Regions from separate parts of the Homo sapiens genome. Here region 1 is linked to region 2. The links come from fine-mapping of genetic effects on gene expression. A gene starts in region 2. The other region holds a variant in brackets. All regions are shown on one strand. Distances are between the middles of the regions. Region 1 holds the start of SLC35C1 (solute carrier family 35 member C1). Region 2 holds the start of LINC02716 (long intergenic non-protein coding RNA 2716).

Region 1 (8,270 bases), 36 kb before region 2:
ACACAGAGGCTAGCCAGCACGCCGAAGACGGTGCCCAGCCACGACAGGGTGCCTTCTGCCCCCTCCTGGTCCACACCAAGCCAGAAGCCCCCTGCAGTGGGGAGAGGAGGAGTGGGGAAGGGTGAGGAAGAGGGATGAGGACGAGGAGGAAGAAGGACAGAGGATCAGACACCAAATTTCACAGACTGAGTATTGCGGCCCTCCCCGTTCCTCCCCAGGCCTCCCTCCAATAAGCACAGCCAGAGTCTCCACTGCAGGCAAAGCACTCCACATGAACTATGGGAGCCGCCCAGGGCAAGAAAACCTCCTCTGGCAGCTTATCTGCTAGCAGAGGAGAAAGACATTAAAACAAATCTTCCCAGTTACTTCTTTAATTACAATTGTAAGAATTGTAATGAGGTCCATAAAGTAGTACAAGGTGCTGTGAGAGCCTGTAAGTGGGCGACTGTGCTGGCCTGGGGCATCTGAAAATAACAGTTGAACTGAGTTCTGAAGAATGAGTGCCACTTAGTGGTTAATGTGATTTAAGGTGACCCTGCGTAAATGACTTCCAGTGTCTAAGCCTTGGCTGCTTCTTGCATGGAATGGGAGCCTATGATGTCATCATGGGGCACATTAAGTTAGAATCTCTTGTGTCATTTGGGGCAGTGACTCTGAGACTCTCATCTTGTGTCACTTCCTGCTCAAAGAGCTTCCGTGGCTCCCCACTTCTGCCATGAGGACTACACTCCTTGGCGTGGCAGGCGGGGGTGCAGGCCCTTCCTCTGTCCTATGGTCGCCCCAGCTTCCCTGCTCGTCTCCCTGCTTCTCACCCTGGGCCTCAGTGTCCTTGTTCATGTCCTGTGCCAGAAACACCCTCCTCCTTTCTGGGGGATTCTACTCATCTGTCAAGGTCAAAGTTGGCTTCTCCTGGGGAATCCTTTCCTGATAATCCCAGAACCTGGACTCTTACTGCCTCGCTTTCCTGCAAAGCCCCTTGCCTGCTCTGGGCTGCTGGGCCCCTGCCCATGGTGACAGTCTGGTCTTTTTAGCCAGATCCCATGCTCCCAGAAGCCAGGGGCTGAACAATGCATGTTATACTTCCTGCCACAGCATCTGGCAACACGGGGCAGTGGGGAAAGTTTTGGGGTCAGAGGGATTTAGCCTCCAATCAGGCTCTGCAATTTAGAAGCTGAGTGGCCTGGGAGAAGTTACTTAACCACTCTGAGCTCTCTGGGTCACCTCCCTGTCCTCCACTCCAGCCAATCTACTCTCCACCTTGCAACTGATATGATCATCCTGAAGTCCAGATCGGTCCAGGCTGTGCCCTGGTGTGAAGCCTCTCTGTGGCTCTCCACTGCCTTCAGGAGAAATTCCACTCACTCACCACAGCTCTTAGGACCTGCACCACGTGGAGTCGGCCTGACTGGGCAGCCTTGTGTCTGGTGAGTCTTGCTGTGGCCCAGCCATGAAGAAGTGCACGTGCTCTTCCTTCTATCTAGAATGTTCTGTCCCTACTTCTTCCTCTAAACCCAGTTTCTAAACTTCCTCCAGAAGGCCTGCTTAGACTGCCCTGTCCCCGGGTCCCCTCCCTTGCCCAGAGCTCCCACAGCCCCTTTTATGCATGCCCCATCACAGCCCTTACTATGCTAGCGTAACTGTCACCACCATGCCCTCCAGGAGTGTAGGAGCTGAGGTTACCTTTTCCAAACTTGTATCCCCAAAGCCTGGCATGGTGCCTGGCATGTGTTTAGCCACCAATTACTAGTCGTGGAATGAATGAATGAAAGTTGTTATGGAGGTGGTTGTATTAAAGGAGACAGGATACTTCCTACATCATAGGCACTCAACACACAGCACTCTTCTCTTTTTCTCTTTGTTTTTTGAGACGGAGTCTCGCTGTGTCACCCTGGCTGGAGTACAGTGGTGCGATCTTGGCTCACTGCAACCTTCGCCTCCTGGGTTCAAGCGATTCTCGTGCCTCAGCCTCTTGAGTAGCTGGGATTACAGGGATGCGCCACCATGCCTGGCTAATTTTTGTATTTTCAGTAGAGAGGGGGCTTCACCATGTTGGCCAAGCTGGTCTTGAACTCTTGACCTCAGGTGATCTGCCCGCCTCAGCCTCCCCAAGTGCTGGGATTACAGGCATGAGCCACCATGCCCAGCCCAACCACAGAGCCCGACCCTCCTCTTTCTTGACAGAACCTTTGCACAAGGGGTACCCACAGACCTGCTGGGGGTAGGGTGAGGGGGGCAGAGGGCTGCACCACCCACTCACCTGCTTGGCTACAGCACCCCTAGCCCTCCTGGTGGTTACCTTCTGAGTCCAGAAGCAACTGCAACATCAATGTTCTAGAGCGACTCTTGCCCAGAAAGAACTTTTTTTTGAGACTGTGTCTTGCTCTGTCGCCCAGGCTGGAATGCAGTGGCGCGATCTTGGCTCAATGCAACTTCTGCCTCCCGGGTTCAAGCAATTATCCTGCCTCAGCCTCCCGAGTAGCTGGGATTACAGGCACATGCCACCACGCCCGGCTAATTTTTTGTATTTTTAGTAGAGACAGGGTTTCACCATGTTGGCCAGGCTGGTCTCGAACTACTGATCTCAGGTGATCCACCTGCCTCAGCCTCCCAAAGTGCTGGGATTACAGGCATGAGCCACTGTGCCTGGCCCAGAAGGAGCTTTGAAAGTTACTGTGTGACATGGGGGGCTAGGAGGGGAGGCCTAGAATAGTTGCCTGAGACTCGTCTTCCCCTACAAGGAGGAAGAAAGAGGAAACATTGCAGATAGGGAGCCAGGTCCTGGGCTGGCAGAGAGCGTCCACCTCCCTGGCCCCTGTCCCAGTCAGGCACGCCCGTGAATGCACCATTCTCAGAACCTCACCACTGGTTACTTGGATTACCTTTGGGATTTGGGCCCAGTTACCCTAGTGTCTTCACCTTCCTGCAAGCAAATTCTCCAACTAGGAGCCTCTACCCCTGAGGCCACTCCTGGCAGGGTCAGCAGGAATGAAGTAGAGAGCCCTGGGGCATCTGAGGAGGACAGGGAGGAGGGGAGGTACACCTGTTCCCTGGAGAGGGAAATGGAAGCAGGCTGGGAGAGTTCTGGCAGGGGGGGTCTTGCAGCTTCCCCTACTCTAACTGTGACCTTCTCCCTTCTCCCCTCTTGGACTTAGACCCAGCAGCCCTAGATCCAGCAGCTGCTCAACAAGGGGAAACATTTTCTAGGACAGGTGGCATGGGATGGGTCCCTTCCCCCACCAACCGGTGCATCTAGCCTGGGACCCTGAGCCATCAGCAAAGAATATGATATGTAGGCCAAATAAGATAAACTTTATAGCACCAGGAAAAACCAGCATAGGTTCAAATGAAGACCCCATTCCTAGATGACGCAGCCCTGGGAAGACTCGGAGGGAATGGGATGCTGGAGGCTCTCTAACGCAGCATGGGGCCCAGTAAAATATGGGCCCATCTAACCTGTGCTGTCCCATACCATAGCCCTCAGCCACATTTGGCTACTGAGCCCTTGAAATGTGGCTAGAAAATCAGGTTGTAACATCTGCAAATGAGGAAGTGAATGTTTAACATTTTGCTTAATTTTAACTAATTTAAATAAGTGGCCAATGGCTACTGCATTGAATACTGCAGTTCTAACCTCCAAGACGAGCAGAGGGGATAGAAGCACAGGCCTGGGAGTCTGGCCAATCTGGGTTTGCATCCCAGCCTGGCTGCTTGCTAGCTGTGTGGC[C/T]GTGGGCAAGTAATGTAACATCTCTGAGCCTCAGTTTCCTTGTTTGTATAGAGATGACCGCTGGTAGTGATGCCACAACCCAGGGGATCTCTGGGAGAACAAAGGAGATGCTATATGTGAAATAATTAGCATAATTTCCCCATCAATAATTATTATTTTCTGAGGGTCAAGTCCAGGAAGACAGCTGAGGCCTCTCAAAGCATATTGCTTGCTACTGTCTCAGGCGCTATCCTGAGCTGGCAGAGAGTGATGGTATATTTATTAAAAGACGTATTGTCCTCTACTAAGAGCACTGGCTGGGAAATCAGGACACCTGAGCTCTTGAGAAACAATAAAGTACAGTGGTCGGGCATGTGAACTGTGAAGCCAGATTGCTTGAGTTCAGATCCCAGCTCTGCCACTTATTAGCTGGGTGATCTTGGACAAGTTAGTTAACTTCTCTGTGCCTTGGTTTTTCCCTCTGTAAAATGTGGATTATAATCCCATCTTGTTATGAAGATTAGCTGAGTTAATATGGCTAAGATCCATGTGCCTGGCACATTTTAATCACTCAACAAATGTCAGTTGCTTTTGCTGCTGTTGTTACTATTATTATTACTATTGTTCTTGCCCCGGCTGGGCTCCTAACTTGCTGGGTGACCTTTAGTAAGTTACTTGCTCTCTCTGTGCCCCCAGGCTCTTTCTCCTATGACTGCTGCACCAAAGGAGCTGGGACAGATGAAGTCCTAGGATGCCTAGAAGAGTTGTTCTTCACTGCTTCAGTCCCCATGACCACTCTATCCCCCGTGGCCCCAGCTGCCACTCACCGATGATGATACCGCAGGTGAGCAGGGCATAGAAGGAGGTGGTCTGCTTGAGCAGCAGGTAGGAGAGCAGCACGTTGAAGACGGTGGTGAGTGAGCGGCCCACATTGTAGAAGGCCACACCGACGTACTTGAGGCAGAGGTTATTGAAGGTGATCATGCCGATGAAGACCACCGACAGGGGCAGGACGCTGCGGGCCACCCTGAGGTCCAGGCGCAAGCTGGGGAAGTCCACGGCACCAGGGCAGCAGGCGGCCAGAGCGCTGAGGCCTTTGCACAGCAGCGTGGTCACCAGGCACTGGTAGAAGGTGACGAAGATGGGGGTGTCCAGCCGCAGGGAGGGGCTGTCCAGCAGGTACTTATTAAGGAACACCATGGAGATGGAGGTGACCCAGTAGAGGGAGACCACCAGCGCGATCTGCAATGCCCGCAGCAGAAAGGGCTTCTCCCCGTTGGCCTCTGCCTCTGCAGAGGGGTCTGAGGCCCCGGTCAGCGCCATGTGCAGGATCCTGGACCGCTTCAGAGGGGCCCTATTCATGGTAGCAGAGGAGCTGGGTCACCCCGCGGCCAGAACTCTGATTCCCTGGAGTCCAGGGCAGTGAGCTCACTTGTGCTCTCCGCAAGGAAGCCGCAGCCCTCCATTGTCACATGTGGGCTGGCCTAAAGGCCTCCCCATTGTCCTCATGGATTGAGAAGTTCTGCTTTGGGGTGAGCCCAGTTGTGCTGCTCCACAACCTACTCCCACCCCGAGGGGGCTCTGAGACAAGACACAGGGCAAGGGAGAGGAATAGGATAAGGCGGTGAGGCCAGGACAGAGAAGACCTGTGAGGGGAGAAGAGGCTGGGGCCTAACAGGGAGGGGTCGCAGAGAGAAGGGAGGGGAGAGGAATGGCAGGGCGGGGCAGGAGTAGGTACGCGGGGCGAAGGTGCAGGAAAAGGACGCGTGGCAGAGTGGGAAGAGGTGCCGAGAGGGCGTCATGGGCGGCTGTGGGAGGGAGGGGCGGGCAGGGGGAGGGAGGCGTACAGGGAGCTGCCGGAGGCCGGGCGCGGCTGGAGGGAGGGCTGCGGAAGGGTCAGAGGGGCTCGGGGCTTGGGGCTGAAGGACGCGGGAGGGGGCTGGGCCGGCGCCCACGTCTCGCTGCCTTCCCGGGCTCTGTCGCCGGCTCAGCCCAGGAGCCTCCGGACATCCGAGGCCGACTCCCCGGGAGGCGGGCCCTGGACTCACTTCCTGACACGCCCCCACGTGGCCTTAAAGGGCCCGCACGCCCCGCCTTGCCCTTAAAGCGACAGCCCCAGAGAGGCGGAGTTCGCCAGTCCCCAGCCCCGCCCCTGCGCTCCGCTGCCCGCTGCTGGCGGGGGACCTCGGCAGCCACAGGTTTTTCTGGGTGCTTGAGCCTCGCCCTGCTTCCTGGAAGGGCTCCATCAACCTCGCCTGCCCACCCTCAGCTCCGTCCGCCCCGGAGCCTCCGTCCCCCGACTTGGCTAGGCTTGGCTCGCAGGTCCACTTCCCGGAACCCCGACCCAGGACCCGGGCGGCGCTACATCAGCCTGGACCCCTCCACCTCCGGAGACTCGCGTTGCAGCCCCGCGTCCCTCTGCCAATCCGAGCTCACTCTTCCATAACAATGTTGTGGTCCCCTCCTTTCCCCCCATTTTCACCGCCCCCAGGCCCTCTCCCAAGCCCGAGACCCCCGGCAGCGCTCCCCGAGGCCGGAGGCCACGCCGCCTCTCTCGGACTTCAGTTTGTCCTCCCTGTGCTCCTGTCGAGGTCCTCTGGGCGGCCCGGATCCGAGATTCCAAAGGCTCAAGACAGCATCTCTTACCCCTTCCAGAAAATACTGTTTCCCCGGCCGGTCCAGCCGCATCAGCTCCCGCGTCCCTGCCTGTGTCCCCGGGCCGCGAAGGCGACCTGGCGCTCACCTCCTCCGGTGCACTGGGCGCCCGCCCCGCGACCCCGTGCTGCATCTGCAGCGCCGCACCCTGGGCCGCGCCCGCGGGATCGACTTCCTGCTTTCCGCCCCGGGCCCGGGCACCTTGCCAGCCTCGCCGGCCTGTTCGCGGCATGGGCCCCGGGGGTGCCGGCGGAGAGGCGGTGATCCGGACGGTCGTGGGAGGAGGCCCTCTCCTCTTTCCAAGGCTACTCCTGTCCCTGGTACCCCCGCCCGCCCGGGACCCGGCTTCAGTTACCGCAGCTGGCACGTCCCGGGACTTGGCTGTATCCCTGGCCCGCCGCGCTACCGGCTTGCACTTCCAGAAGTGCGTGCGGGGACCGCTCGGATTCTTCCAGCTGGCAGTGAGGGGGAGGGTTCCCCGCCCCTTCCAGGGCCGGGGCCTGGGAAGTCTAGCCTGTGGTCTGCCACTCACCAGGCAGCCGGGGAGACCAGGAGGATCGACTTCTCTTGGTTCGCGCTCTAGCACCTGCGTTGGGCAGGCCACTTTCTCCGACGGCCTGAGTTATCTTCATGGTAAAACTAAGGGGCTAGGCTTGACCTGTGGGTCCCAACCTTCTTGCCCAGAACTCTAGGTGGTATGGTCGAACATAGATGTTTGTAATATTTCAAGCACCATTTAATTAGTGCCATTTAATTAACGGGTAAGATGATGTCATGGCTGGGATTTGTTTTAAAATACTAAGAATACTTACCAAAAATATTTTTTATTTTTATTTATTTATTCTTTTTGGGACGGAGTCTCGCTCCGTCGCCCAGGCTGGAGTGCAGTGGTGCTATTTCAGCTCACTGCAACCTCCGTCTCCCGGGTTCAAGCGATTCTCCTGCCTCAGCCTCCCGAATAGCTGGAATTACAGGCGTCCACCACCACGCCCGGTTATTTTTTGTATTTTTAGTAGAGACCGGGTTTCGCCGTGTTGGCCAGGCTGTTCTCTAACTCCTGACCTCAGGTGATCCGCCGGCCTCGGCCTCCCAAAGTGCTGGGATTACAAGCGTGAGCCACCGTGCCTGACCTCAAAAAGATTTTTTTTAAAAGGTTGATAGATTAAATAAGATAAGCCATTGATAGTTGTAGCTAGGCGTAGATACACAAGGACCCATTATAAGAGTTTCCTTACTTTTGTGTACATTTGCAAATTTCCAGAATAAAAAGGTAAAACCTATATAGTACGCTTAAACTCTCAGATCCTAACTGCACAAACCTTCACTGGAGCTGAGCGCAGCCCTGGGTGGGCTGTAGGGAAATGGGAGGGCTGCAGGCTGCAGTGAAGTAAACAGCTGCCCCACAACGAGCCGGGCCCACACCCTACCCTCTTCCACTAGCCCCGGGTACTAGCACTCCCCTCTTCCTCCTCAAGGAATGAGACTCTGCTTCCTAGTTGTGGGCTGTTCTCCACCTGGAGGATACCATCTGGTTACCTTGTCACTTTTGGAACTAAAATATCCCTTTGGGGAAAGAAAGACTCAAGAGGGACTGAGCTGGTCTCCTCAACCCCACCTGGAGAGTCTACCTCTGGGATTTTCCTTTGAAGCTGTGGGTTTTGGTTCATTAAGAGCAATTCGTATCTGTTCCAGTCTCTCCTCTCTTATGCCCGAGAGTTCACCATGACAAACAATTTAGTGACAGACAGGGCAAACTTGTCCCTGAGAGGCCCTGGTGATCTGGAAGGGCCTTCTCCTTAGCACATTAGCAGGAACTTGTCTGATGACTGCTGCCACCTTGAACTGGAGGGAAGAGATATATCTTGTATATAGGCCAGATGCACTTCGCTGAGAGAGGCCCAGGGGCAGTCAG
Region 2 (8,324 bases):
TACAGCGAGGATAGCCTGGGTGTCTCCTGCTCTCAGGACCACCTTGTCTGGTGGGAGACATGCATATGTAGAAACATGGGAACATGGCAGAAGAGGCAGGAATGGAGCTGGGGGCTTTGGACCTAGGGCAGGCATGGCTGAGCTAGGCCATTTCATTCTCTCCTCCTGAAGAATGGCCCCCTTCCTTCTGCTATTGTTCTGTGGAGTCCTTCTCTGGTGCTTGGGAGCCCAGCCAGCAGTAGCCTCAGTGACCCCAGGGACAGGCCCCCACAACAGCAGAGGAGAGAGAGAGGGACCGGGGTGTTGGCGGCGAGGCTGGTGTGGAGATAGGGAGATGAATGTCTTAGCTGGAGGAGCTGGAGAAGTCCAGGCTGCCCATTTTTCAGAGGGGAAAGCTGAGGCCCTCATAGAGCAAGGGATTGTCCAGGGAAAGGAACGTGAGTATCGAGGAAGAAAAACCTGGGGGGCAGGGGCCCAGAAGAGAAGGCAGATCCCTCTCCACCCCACCCCAGGCAGGAAGCCCAGGCTCCAACCACCGCCTTTGGGCCAGGCACCTCTGCTGTCCTCTGAAGGGGTGGGGAGGATGAGTGTGGCTTCTGGCCCACTGGACATGCTTGCAAGGCACATTTGCAGATTTGCTGCTGCAAGGGGAGGGGTGGGCTGGTGGGGAGGTGCCGGCCTGATGGGGCACCTGGAGGGTGGAGAGACCCCTAGGCTCCTGTTTACTCCCCCTCAAGTCTCAGAGGCAGCCCAGAGGCAGAAGGAGACTTGATGGACACTTGCGCAAAGTCAGGGCTGGACCGGGCAATTCCACATGCAGTTCTCCTGGCTGGTGAATTCTTGAATTAGTGGGAGGGCAGGTTCACTCTCCAAAGTTGGACCATAAATTCTCCGAGGGGCAGGATCGCCTCACCCGGACACTGGCCCTTATACATCCCAGGGTACCAGTAAATGTACGCCTCATCCAGTCGCTTTTCTAACTGCAACAAGAGCGAAGGAATATTTATTGGGCACTTACTCTGTTCTAGACACTATCACAGCAGGGACTGCTTTTCATTCTGGCACCAATTCTGGGAAGTAGATGGTATTATTATCCCCATTTGACAGAGGTGGAAACTGAGGCCCAGAAAGGTGAAGTGCCTTGCATAGAGACTTGCTCAAGGTCACATGCAAATGGAATCAGGACTGGAATCCAAGTGGGTTCAGAGCCTGCCCTGAATGCCCCACTTTTCCTCCTTCCTAGGGCCCGTGGCACTCTTTCTGGGGCCAAGCTCAGGCCAAGCTGAAGGAGCCATTCTGGAAGCAATTCTGGGCAGACGAAGGCCAAGAAGCCAATTCACAGCGGTTGTGCTGACGAGTTTCTTGGCAATGTGGAAAGTCTGACGATCTTACAAATGTGTGAAACTGAGACTCAATTTTCCCTCATCCTACCTCCCCTTTCTACCCACCCTCCAACATGGATCTAAATATGGATGCTATATTGGGGGAGTAGCCCCCCTCTCTAGACTGCAAGAGAAGATGACGTTGGGGAGGAGGTGGGGCCAGCCAAATTGGGCAAGAGCGGCCTCAGATGATGCTGCCTCCAAAAAGGTCCCTGTGTAAGTATGAGGTGGGTGGCTGAGATTTCTGAAATCCGTATCTGAGATGACTAGGTGGAGTCATACATTTCCACCCTTCTGGGGTTAAGGACACAGCCTTAACCATTTAGGGTGACCATTTAGGGTGAAGTCACTGTTTATGGGAGTCTAAACTGTGACTTTGGCAAGGTGCAATATAAAAATGCTAATACATGTTTATGCACTAAGCTGGAAATAATGCCAAGCCCCTCAGTTAAAAAAAAACCTGTCAAGAATTGCAGTTTCCTTGAGTCGGAGGAACTAAGTGAGCTGTTAAATGAGGACTGTAAACCTGCCACATGGCGACGTTGCTTTGGTTATTAAATAGAAATACCTGCTTTCTATATGCATGCACTGTTGTTTACATGCCTCTGAATTTCTAATTTCTGCAGGAGATTCTGGTGACTGGTGTGCCATTTTCTCAATGTTCACAGTTATTATAACTTTAAATATTTTACCCATATCCTGTAACAATGTCATCCAAGTGTTCTTTAAGTGGTGGTGCTGAAAAACGCACCTGAAAATCGATAACATTGGAAAGGAAGTGAGATGTGATAAAACGTTATGAAGAAGGCCAAACCACCGGCAGGAAATGCTGCACTGTTAATTTAGCAGAGAGTGCGTTATGAAATATTAGCGATAATGCCAGGGAAATAAAAAGCAGCATTAAGGCAAAAATATGCCACAATTGGAGTAATGTATGCAACCTATCCTTTCTACTTTGCATTCATTTCTCTGGCAAAATTAGTCAGAAATTATGCACGCTTTGAATTATGCAAGTTTTTCAGGACCACATGCTTTGCATAAAACTCTACTGCCCTGAGGTTCTCAGTGGGTGGAAGAATGAGTGACCATATTCTAGGGTTATCTTAGGCCAGGCCGTTGTACCCTCCTGTCCTAGGTGGGGATGAAGTGACCTCATGTGTAAAATGGGACCGTTGGACTGGCTTGTCTTTCTTTCCTTATTAGACTATGTCGAGACAGGCACCATTATATTTCTGCCCCAAAGGTGTCTTTTTCTGGACGGATCCCACAGCTGATACCAAACTTGTCTTTATTAACTGTGAGGCTGGCCATTCAAACACCAGGTGCCAGAGAGGGTCCCTCACTCATCGGAATCCGGGTGGGATGAATCCTCGGAGGCAAGGTCCCTCCACCTTCACCCTAGAGTCACACAGAGACTTGCCCTGGCGGCTGGTGACAGGTGGGCGGGAGAAGAAAAGGCCCCTGGGGAGCAGGAGAAAGCCAGGTGCCATGGGGACCCAGCGCCGCTGGAGGGCAGCACCAGCACACAGCTGAGGCCGCCTCTCCCGGAGCCCGGAGGGAGCTGGGTTCCGGTCGCCAGCGGTGCCCGGGTGAGCAGTTCACCCTCACGTCCCTGCTCTGACGAAGTTTCCATTCTTCTGGAGAAGACAAAATAAACGTGAACAAATGAACAAGTGTGCATTGTCAGGCAGCAAGTGTTGGTACAAACAAGATAGTGGTGGGGGTGGGGACACCGTTAAATAGGGGCCAGGGAGGCCTAACCCGGGAGGGGATAGCTGAGATGCCACTTGAGTGGAGAAAACAGTCCGAGATCTGAAGGTGTTCATGGAGAGGGGAAGGGGCCCCTAGAGGAGTCGGGAAAGCCTGGGTCAGGGAAGACGAGAAAACTGAGGAACAGAGAAGCCAGGTAACTTACCCAGGGTCATAGAGCCGGTGAGCTGGGGACAGCGCCTGTCAACGCCCCAGAGCCTTCCACGGCACTGGTTTCTCCGACCTTCCTCTCTAAACAGGACCGTGACAGTGACAGTTTCTGCCCCACTCCCCATTTCTGACCGCAGTCCCCATAAGGAAACAGGGCAGGGATCACTGGCTGTGAGCCCAGCAAGTCCCCTCCCGTGGCTTTCTCAGTTATTAAATGGAAGGGTGGGTCCCCCCATAACTCCGAAGCTCCCCTCTCTAAGCGTCCGCGGGCCGGGAACGCCTGAATTCTGGCTCCCGAGCACCTTCTTGTGGACAGTTTTGGAATCACACGCTCAGCGAGAAAGGGTCGTGGGAAAATGGTCTGTGCTAATTTCGGAGAGGCCAGTGGATTGGAAGGTTATCACTGAGGGTGGGTGCACGTGTGTGTGTGTGTGCGCGCACGTGCATGCGTGCATGCATCTGTGTGCCTGTGTGTGTTGGTCTGTGTGTGAATGTACCTCTGTGCGTATCTGTGTGTATGGTTGTGTGTGAGCACATACTGCCCGAGCCTGTGTGTGTGTGAGTGTGTGTGTGCACTAATGTTTGTTTATATGGGCACAGGCACACACATGTCCATGTCCATGTGTGTGTACCTGCATCTGTATTTTTTCGTCTGGTGTATGGGCTTGTTTTTGTGTGCCTGCATGCATGTGCCCATGTGCGTGTGTGTTTTGGGAACTGGGACACAGAGGATGATATGAGAAGTCCCCAGTCTTTCTCACAAAGGCCTAACCACTCTCCCTGAAGCCAGCTTTCTCCCCTACTTGCTTCTGTCTGCACCATCACCTGAGTTCTCCCACCTGAACTTTTCACCGACATTTTTGATGATTTTTCTGTTTTGTGTCCGTTGAGGCTCATTTGAATGTTACAGATCATAGCTCAAGAAATGATTCTCAGGCCGGGCATGGTGGCTCATGCCTGTAATCCCAGCACTTTGGGAGGCTGAGGCAGGTGGATCGTCTGAGGTCAAGAGTTCAAGACCAGCCTGGCTAACATGGTGAAACCCCGTTTCTACTAATAATAACAAATTAGCCAGGTGTGGTGGCGTGTGCCTGTAATCCCAGCTACTCGGGGGGCTGAGGCAGGAGAATCACTGGAACCGGTGAGGCAGAGGTTGCAGTGAGCTGAGATCCCTGGGTGACACAGCGAGACTCCGTCTAAAAAAAAAGAAAGAAAGAAGTGATTCTCCTCTAGTCTACTCACCCAAATCATGAGTTTCACTTCTCAGGTGGGCTGATCACCCACTGTCCTGTTGAGACCTGGGGACTTGTACAAAGTCGTACCCTGGAGGGTTGAGCAGAAAACCAGGCACATAGTAACTAAGACAATGGCGCGTTAGCAAAGCACTCCACACATCCCGTTCACATGTGTGTCTTACTTGACTCACAAACTGATCTTTCATCCTTTTTTTTTTCCTTTTTTGTGGTGAACAGGGTCTTGCTATATTGCCCAGGCAGGTCTCAAACTACCGGCTGATCTTTCAAGCCTAGGCAAGGTGAGGCTAATTATTCCCATTTTACAGATGAAGACACTGAGGCTCAGAGAGGGAAATAATGAAAATAGTACTGCAGGAACCATCTAACCAATATGCAAACTCTCTCATCCAGTTTTCATAACATCATCAATTCCCTTCTTTAAAAGACAAGGAGATGGAGGCTTTAAAAATGTAAGGCGAGTGCTTAATGCCATATAGCCAATCAGTAGTTGAGGCAGGATTTGAATCTCGCTCCAGAGATTAAAGCCCAAGTCCTAAACACAATGGCAGGCGTGAGGGCCCTGGGCACACACTGACTCAAGCTCTTTCAGCCACACACTGTCCCTTTGCCATGCCTCTGGGGTCCTAAGAACATCCTCCTCTGAGCCCACAGGGAGGTCATTCCCCATCCTGGGTGCCCCTGCTCCTCTCCCAGATGCGGGGCAGGTGAATCTTGTAACCTGTGTCACTCTCAGAGGCTGAGATGGGGACTGAGCATTAATTATGCAATAACCTCGCTGTGGTGTGCCTAATTGTCTGATAACCATAATTGAATCTTATGGATTACACCAACATTATTGCAGGGAGCAGCTTAAGGCAGTTAACAGAAGCTGCACTCACTTTGTGATATCTTCCTCCTGTCTCCTTGCTGGCTGGGCTGTGAGTCCTTTCCTGGGGGCTGAGGGAGGCCTCGAGGTGCAGGGGGCAGGCAGGAGGTGAGTGACAGCACAAATGTCGCATCACCTTATCCCCCCGAGGGCACCATCTTCCTGGCTGAGAAAAGTCTGTGTGGCAGGTGGAATTATCATTTTGTAAATGAGAATGTGGCATCAGAAGGCTGAGAGACTCTCCCAATTTCAGTCTTGCTCATTGCTACTGGTCCTTGCTAGCATCATCTGGGACTGTTTAGACGTGCAGCATCTCAGCTGGGCTCGGTGGCTCACGCTTGTAATCCCAGCACTTTGGGAGGCCAAGGCGTGTGGATCATGAGATCAGGAGTTTGAGACCAGCCTGACCAACATGGTGAAACCCCGTCTCTAAAAATTAGCTGGGCATGGTGGTGCGTGCCTGTAATCCCAGCTACTCAGGAGGCTGAGGTAGGAGAATTGCTGAACCTGGGAGGCGGAGGTTGCACTGAGCCGAGATCACGCCACTGTACTCCAGCCTGCGTGACAGAGCAAGACTCCGTCTCAAAAAAAAAAAAAAAAAAAAAGAAATGCAGCATCTCAGGCCCCACCCTGGACCTACTGAATCAGAAGCTGCATTATTTTTTATTAAATGAATTTTTTTTCTTTAAAGAGATGAGATTTTGCTCTGTCTTCCAGGCTGGAGTGCAGTGGTGCGATTGTGGCTTGCTGCAGCCTCGAACTCCTGGGCTTGAGAGATCCTCCAGCCTCAGCCTCCCTAGTAGCTGGGACTACAGTCGGAGCCACCATGCCTGGCTCTCAGAATCTGCATTGTAATAGCATCTCAGGTGATTTATTTTCACGTTGCCGTTTGCTGAGTGCTGGTTTATGTAATTATTTATTCATTGCCTATGTGGGATCCATTGCCCTTTCTTGTGTCAGCAACACCTTGACTTCCATTTGGGAAATAACCCTTCTTCCCATATGGGAGACCCCTAGCTGTACCCTTACTCCTACCTCCCTCAGGCATTGACCCCAGGCCAGGCCAATGAGTCAGTTCCAAGATCTTTGAGGCACTGTTGAGGAAGACGTGTTTGATGGAGTTTTGCTGAGGCTTCTTCATTCCCTCCCTCCCTTGCATGGTTCACTGTGGGTGAATATTCTTCCCCACACCATCCATGGTGAGCTCAGCCACTGACTTGCTTTGGTCAATGGAATGTCGGTAGAAGTGATGATGTGTGGGTTCCAAGCTAGGCCTTAAAGAAGTATCTTGTGTTTCCGCTTGCCCCTCTAGAGCTCCTGCCCACCATGAGAAAGGAAGGTACACCCAGGCGACCATGGCACCTTCATCTGGAGTCCAGGATGGAGACTGTGGGGCAAATTGAACCTAACCAGAGACTGGAGTCCAGCCTAACTCTGATATTAACAACCCCCCAACTAACCTGCAGACCCATGAGTATGAAAGGAATGGTTGTTATAAGCAACTGAGATTTTCAGAGTGCTTGTTGCATGGCATTGGTGCAGCAGACACCTGACTGGTATAAAAGACATACTTTCTTTCCAGGGGGATTGCTAAGCTGAATTTGGATTTTAGGTGTTATCTTGTCACTAGGAAAGCAGGGCCTGCCTAAGGGCAAAACCAACCCAGAGGGAAATGGAGCTGAGATAGGATGAGAGCCCTGATCATGATGACAGCCTTTGTTTTCATGGATCCAGCCTCACAGGAGTTAGTCAACTCTTTCAGTCTCAAGGAGTAGAGAGCTGAAACTTCGCTGGCTTAAACCCAAGAAGGAATTAGCGGCTCACATAGCTCAGAAGTCTGGAGGTGATGTGGGTTTCAGGTGAGGCTTGAATCAGTAGCCCCTGGACCAGTGTCCTTGTCTCTCCACTCTGGGTCCCATTTTGCTGGTTTCATCTGGAGGCTGGCTCCCCTTTGTGATATCGTAAAATACATATTGAGTTGTTGTCCACATTTCCTGGCATGTTACTCCTAAAATCTATGGAATCTCCAAAGTGGTAAGTGTCTTTTTGTATGCTAATGAGTTGACAGTTGGCTGGCAGCCCCTAGGTAGCTTGAGGATGGGGGCTACTCCAGAAAGTTCAAGGCAGGATTAGAGGACTGGGGCTTTCAGCCCCACTCCCATTCTCTCTTAGAGGGGAGAGGGGCTGGAAGTTACGTTGATCACCAATGGCCGATGGCTTAATCAATCACGCCTGTGTAATGAAGCCTCCATAAAAACCCTGAAGGACAGGGTCTGGAGAGCTTCTGGACAGCTGGACACACGGGGCTCCTGGAGGATGGCGCTCTGCTCCCCCATACCTTGCCCTATGCATTGCCCATCTGTGTCCTCTGTGGTATCCTTTATAATAAGTGAGTCAACGTGTTTCCCTGAGTTCTGTGAGCTGCTCTAGCAAATTAATCCAACCAATGAGGGGATTGTGGGAACCTCAATTATAGTCAGTTGGTCAGAAGCACAGCTAAAATACTCTGGGACTTGTGATTGGCATCGGGAGAAGGGGAGCATCTTGGGGACTGAGTCCTTAGCCTGTGGAACCTGACGCTATCTCCAGGTGGGGAAGTGAACTGAATTAGAGGACACCGAACTGGTGTCTGCTGCGTAATTGATTGCTTGCTTACTATGTGGGAACGCCTCCCCAAACACCCATCTGGTGTAAGAAGCCCACTGTGAGTGTATAGTGGGAGAAACAGTCTGCTTATCCATGTATTCTCAGACCCTCATTGGAGCACGATGGCGTCCTTGTTCGGGTCTAACAGGAGAGAGAGTGTTTGTTCTGGAAGCGAGGAAGCTTCTTTCTCAGGAGCTGGCAGCAAATGTCTCAGGTCTCATGGCCTCAGGTCAGGTCACATACCGTCCCTGCACC

The links. PIP is the estimated chance that this variant, and not a neighbour inherited with it, causes the effect.
Region 1: its variant is fine-mapped to the expression of LINC02716 in visceral fat (GTEx, PIP above 0.99). The same link has a PIP of 0.9 or more in cerebral cortex.

What each region holds. Positions count from the first base shown.
Region 1 is chr11:45,802,597-45,810,866 of GRCh38, reverse strand. It overlaps SLC35C1 (solute carrier family 35 member C1), which reads right to left and starts at 5,718. Exons shown (of 2, transcript NM_018389.5): 1 at 4,531-5,718; 2 at 1-91. The coding sequence starts at 5,065. RefSeq lists enhancers at 3,440-3,499, 6,764-6,923 and silencers at 5,464-5,693, 6,424-6,593. The variant C/T (reference allele first, on the strand shown) is at 3,725.
Region 2 is chr11:45,766,688-45,775,011 of GRCh38, reverse strand. LINC02716 (long intergenic non-protein coding RNA 2716) reads right to left here and starts at 3,580. Exons shown (of 2, transcript NR_027134.1): 1 at 3,298-3,580; 2 at 2,654-3,019. RefSeq lists an enhancer at 3,387-3,888.